Linked DNA regions of Homo sapiens: region 2 is linked to region 1. The links come from fine-mapping of genetic effects on gene expression. A gene starts in region 1. The other region holds a variant in brackets. All regions are shown on one strand. Distances are between the middles of the regions.

Region 1 (2,918 bases):
ACGAAAATGCTTCAGAATTCATTACTGAGTGTACATTTCCTGCCATGTTCTCCCACCCCACCCCCTAGCTATCTGAGATGCTTTGGTAACTGATAAACTGCAATTGTTTATAAACAATAACATGGCAGGCACCATGTGAAAAACAGAAATATAGGCCCAGTTTCCATTATCCATTCTAATAGGCATTCATTACATTGTACAAATATACAGAATATCTAAAATCCTTCTTTCACGTTATGGTTTTAGTCTTTTATTTTTAAAAGATAAACTTAAAAAGTAGTAGATTGATTTTATTTTTAGTTTCCGTCCCTCTCTTTTTTACCCAATCCCTTGTAAAAATGCTGCGAAGGTTTTTGGGCTTGGCAGAAACAGAAACTTTGGAAAGATTTTTTTACAGGTTACATTTACTTATTATTAGCATTTATTTTACAGGTTACATTACCTTAGAGGGGGAGTTATTAGTTTGAGTTTTATCATCTGTCTTGGTGGGTTTAGCATGCTGAAGAGGCCCACAGTGCTGACACTCCCGCGCGTCCCACCCTGAGTAAACCCGGAGCCTAGAGGGCTGCAGAAACACGTCCGCCAGGCGTCTCCTGCCCCAGAAGAGGAGGCCGCATGGATGCGTCTTTTTTCCAGAGACCCCCCCGCCACAGCCGCCCCGCAAGCCAAGATCAGAGAACCCCTTCCTTGGGTGGGGTAGGGGGACGCCCCCGGCCAAAGCCTGGATTGCGGTCTGGCGTCCCGGCAGCCATCCGGATGCTCGCGAGGACCGTGGCCTGTTTGGCACAAGAGCCCCACTGCCTCCCAGTTCGGAGCTTGCTGGGGACCGGCAATCTGGGCGGTGCTGGAAGTGTCCCCTGAACCTCTCAGTTTTCACCCACCTTCTGCAATCTCCCTGTAAGCTTAATTGACTCTTGACACACCGCACTGGAGGCGGGGTGTGTGTGTGGGTAAACTCCGTGTGTGGTGGGTGATATTGCGAAGTGTTGGCACTGCGGCCGCTTTCGCTCCTAGGTGGCCGCGGTCGGAAGGTGGGTCACCCCGCACCCTTGCGGCCGGGGACCGACTCTCCTTCGCGCGGCGGTCGCCACACTTACGGGATCCGAGGCGGGATCTCCTCCATCGATTTGAAACGCCCTGTCCACAGCAGGATTTTCTTGTCGAACTGCGAAGGCCTGCGCTGCGTGGGGACTCGGTGAATCTCCCCTGCAGCGAAAGCAACCCAGATGGACGCGGGAACTGACGCACCGGCACAGAGGATCAGCGCGCCCTCAAGCCGACTCCCGGGCCGGCCCCTCGCTGCCCTCCCGCAACCTCCTCCCTCCCAGGACCTCCCCGTCGGAGCCCTGGCTCACCGTGACCTTGGGGCCCAGAATTGCTGGGGGCCCCGCCGCTGGAGTAGCAGGGGAGACCCCGGGGCGGAAGAGCCGGTGCGGGCCGTCGCGTGGCCTCGAGAGGCGCCCCGGGGCCGCAGCGGACTGTTAGCCCGCGGCCAAGGCGCAGTAGGCTCCCGACCGCCCTGAGCATGCTGCCCGCTTGTCCCGCGCCGCACCCGCACCTCCGGACCCAGCCACAGGCGTTGTCCCCGCAGCTCTCCTCGTCCCGCCCCGGCCTGCCGCGCGCTGGAGAGCCTGGGACGTGCAGCTGGAACCCCTGGCGCTCGCACACTCAGCTCGCTATCCCCGTCTCCGCCCCCGGCCAGCGACCCGGGATCAGGGCGTCAAGCCCCGAGGGGCTGGTTCCTCAGGAAGCAGCCTGCCTCTGTTTGAAACAGGCTCACCACCGCCTGAGGCAGTGCGTGTAGCTCCTTTTAAATTCTTTGTATTGAGTAGAAATGTATTCCCGCCAGGCTTTTAGCCTTTGATTCCATCGTTTGTTCCCCAGGAGAATAAATCTAAATCCTCTCTTCCAGGAAGAGACAACAATCCTTCAAGTGCAGGAAACTGAAGACATTTCCCAATTAAGTGTTAAGGGCACTCCACTAACTTCTGGATGAGATTTCTTGAAGTTAGCTCCTCACCTCATCGTCTCCCACCCCCATACCTTTTCTCTTTCCTACGGAAAACAATCTCAATTCCTCCAAGTGCCTTTCTCTATCTTTTCTTCTTCTTTTCAGAGACAGTCTCTGGCTCTGTCACTCAGGCTAAAGTGCAGTGGCATGCTGATAGCTCATTGTAACGTCGAACTCCTGGACTCAAGTAGTCCTCCCACCTTAGCCTCCAGAGTAGCTAGGGCTTTGGTCGTGCGCCAGCACGCTCCGCTATTTTTTTTTTTTTTAAGAGATGGGATCTCACTATGTTGTCCAGACTGGTCTCCAACTCCTGGCCTCAAGCTATCAGCTGGGCTCTGCCTCCCAAAGCACTGGGATTACACGTATGAGCCGCCATGCCAGCTTCCTACCTCTTCATCTCTTAGCCCACAAACTCTCCACACTCCCTTCAAAATGTGCCTTTCTTCTGTCACCTTCCACCATCTCCTCTATGCTAAAAGGTAAAAGAATCTACTATTTTCAGGCATTAAATGGTAACAGGGATTCAGATTCAATGATTGGAGAGAAGGGTTGTACAAGCAATTTACTTATCTTGTTCCACAGACAACAGACCTCCTGCCAAGTCAAAGTGCTCATCAGCCCAGCACCAGGCCGAGCTCACCCTCCTCTGCTATTACTGCCTGTGAGTTTCCCTCCTTATCTAGACACTGCTTTGCACTTGTTGGATTTCTAGATATTTTGCTTCCTAACTAGACTGTCAGGCTCTTGAAAGCTATAACTTTTCTGTAACTGCCAGCTCAGTTTTTTTTTCTTTTTACATAACCGTGTTAAACAAAAAAAGAGGGGTTAATAGCTCTGTGAAGACATACATTTAGAGGAGCGCTTGCAGAAGGAACATGGGCTTTGCCTTCACACCTAGGTTTAAATC
Region 2 (2,918 bases), 110 kb before region 1:
TTAAGACACAAATAATAAATAGAAAGATTGAGAACTTTGATTACATTCAAATTCAAAACTTCTGTCTAATTAAAGGCACTATATATAACATTTAAACACAAACCACAGGCCTGAAAAAGATATTTGGATTTCATATAACTAATGAAAGAATAGTGTTCTGAATACTTAACAGTCTCCTATAAATCAGTAAGAACAAACAACTCAATAGAGAATAGAGAAAGGAAGAGAACAGGTAATTCGTTCAAGAGGAAACTAACTCAGGAGTAATCCAGAAAATGCAAATTAAAACATGTATCATCTCATAACCTGTTAAATAGCAAAAATTTAAAAGTGTCACCATACTATGTGTGAAATACACTGGTGTGAATGTAGATTACAAGCACTTTGGAAAACAATTCTATAATAACCTTAACAACGTTGAAGATTTGCACGCCCTTTAACTTAGCATTCCAGTTCTGGATGTAATACTAGAGAAACGCCTGAAGTAGACATGTTCATAAATTATAAGAGTAGAAAACTGGAAGCAATCTAAATGTTTATCAATATGAAAACAAGATAAGTTAGCTATAATTAGCTACATCCAGTTCTGGATGTAATACTAGAGAAACTCCTGAAGTAGACATGTTCATAAATTATAAGAGTAGAAAACTGGAAACAATCTAAATGTTTATCAATATGAAAACAAGATAAGTTAGCTACAATTCATACAAGGAAATACTACACAGCAGCTAAAATGAATGAAGTAGAACTGTAAGAACCAATATATTTGAGCAAAACAATTTATAGCATACATGTTGTATCCCATTTATATATAAACACCTGCAAAATATTTTATGGAAATGTACATACATGGTAAGAGTACTAAAGCATGTATGAGACTGATAAATATCAAACTTGGGATAATAGTTCCCTTGTGGGGAGGGCAAATTAGAATTAGAAAAAGTGTACATAAAGGGCTTTGAATACCTATCAAAGGTGTTGAAGCTTTAAAAACTTTTAAGTAAATATGGCAAAACATTAAGATTCAAAAAATCTGGGTGACAGTAACAAAGTTGTTTCCATAAAAAGTCTGTTAATATACTAATATATACAAAGAAAAAAATTTTAATACTCATCAGAAAAAAGCCATATTATGGGGCAAGGAAGATTTGATTAGGAATAACCAGCTGTGTAACCTTGCTTTGGCAAAGTCACTGTAACTTCTCTAAGCAACAGTGACCTCATTTGGAATATATAACAGTACAGGAGAGGATGTTTTGAGTTAAATGATACAATGTATATAGAGTTGTTAGTGTCTAAAAATGTACAAACAATAAAATAGCCAATAGCCATTTGTGGCTATCGAGAATTTGAAATGTGGCTGCCCAATTGAGTTGTGCTGTGAAGTAGAAAATACACAATGGATTTTGAAGAATGTATAAACAATGTAAAATGTCTCAGTAATAGTTTTAATGTTGATTACATGTTGAAATAATAATATCATGGATACACTGGTTTAAACTATTTAAATTAACTTCCCCTGTTCCTTTTCACTTTTTTTTGTTTTTTTTTTGTTTTTTTTGAGATGGAGTTTCGCTCTTGTTGCCCAGGCTGGAGTGCAATGGCGCAATCTCGGCTCAC[C/T]GCAACCTCCGCCTCCCGGGTTCAAGCGATTCTCCTGCCTCAGCCTCCCTAGTAGCTGGGATTACAGGCATGTGCCACCACGCCCAGCTAATTTTGTAATTTTTTTTTAGTAGAGATGGGATTTCTCCATGTTGGTTAGGCTAGTCTCGAACTCCCGACCTCAGGTGATCCGCCTGTCTCAGCCTCCCAAAGTGCTGGGATTACAGGCATGAGCCACCGCGCCCAGCCTCCTTTTCACTTTTGTTAATGTGGAGCCAGGAAATTTAAAATTATATATGTGGCTCACATTATATTTCTCTTAGCACTCTCTAGAGCATAGCTTTTTAAATGTCAAGTAACATAATATAAAAGTAAATTTTTAAGTGAATTATTTATCATAAAAATAATTCAGAAGTTTTAAAACAATACATTTTTAAAAAAATATTTGTGCACAGATTATGAAAATTAAGCAAAATTAAAATGATTCTGATTATTACTTCAGTGGTATAAGCAATATTAAAACAATGACTCTGATGTTTAAATACTCACCGGAAGTTTTTGTTTTTCCATCGTCAAAACCAAGAGCTAATGATTCCATCATATCAGCTTTTCTCCTATGAAATTCAGATGGAGGCATTCTTCCCCTATTTACTTCTATCTCCATATTTCGTAGTTGTTGTTGTTTGTATCCTCCAGAATTATCTAAACCATATTGTCTCTATTGAACATAAAAATAAATGACTTAATTTTTACATCCCTGTAACTCTATGAGGATGGAAACTTATTAAAATTTTATTTGGAAACATGTTGAAACATTCTGGTTTATAGACTTTATACAAGTTAACTTAAAGATTTTTACAAAAACTAATAACACACACACACACACACACAAAAAAAAATTATTGACTTAATAAGCAACCACTTCTTTATAATCAATCTCCAGGGCAAGAGACTTGCTTTTCCTGTAGTAGGGAAAGCAGAGGATCCTGTCTTTCTACCTCAGGTATTGGGAGATGCAGAAGAGTTCTGAATGCATTGCTGATTTTTTCAAGGAAACTTGTCAGTCCTTGTTATTTGGTTCCCAGTCTAGTCCATAAAGGCCTACTTAATCCATAATTCATTTAGTCAGTCATGTTACACAGTAAATGAACTATGTTTTGTACACTGGACAGAAATCTCAAATAGTATGTATAAAACTATGGAAAAATTGTCTATGGAAAAGTTTTCACGGAAACTTTTCTACAGAAAAATTTTCTGAGATCTAAACAACTAACTTGCAAAATTACATAACCTCCTTAAATATTGGAAACTTTTTGTAT

Evidence for each region. PIP is the estimated chance that this variant, and not a neighbour inherited with it, causes the effect.
Region 2: its variant is fine-mapped to the expression of FAM162B in subcutaneous fat (GTEx, PIP 0.94).

The regions. Positions count from the first base shown.
Region 1 is chr6:116,764,050-116,766,967 of GRCh38, forward strand. It overlaps FAM162B (family with sequence similarity 162 member B), which reads right to left and starts at 1,670. Exons shown (of 4, transcript NM_001085480.3): 1 at 1,356-1,670; 2 at 1,098-1,206. The coding sequence starts at 1,527. It overlaps LOC105377963 (a long non-coding RNA gene), which reads left to right and starts at 2,319. Exons shown (of 3, transcript XR_942910.3): 1 at 2,319-2,490; 2 at 2,594-2,672. RefSeq lists an enhancer at 691-1,205.
Region 2 is chr6:116,654,536-116,657,453 of GRCh38, forward strand. It overlaps ZUP1 (zinc finger containing ubiquitin peptidase 1), which reads right to left. Exons shown (of 10, transcript NM_145062.3): 5 at 2,149-2,317. Among named protein-coding and RNA genes, the nearest start is that of ZUP1, 13 kb to the right of the region's middle. The variant C/T (reference allele first, on the strand shown) is at 1,621.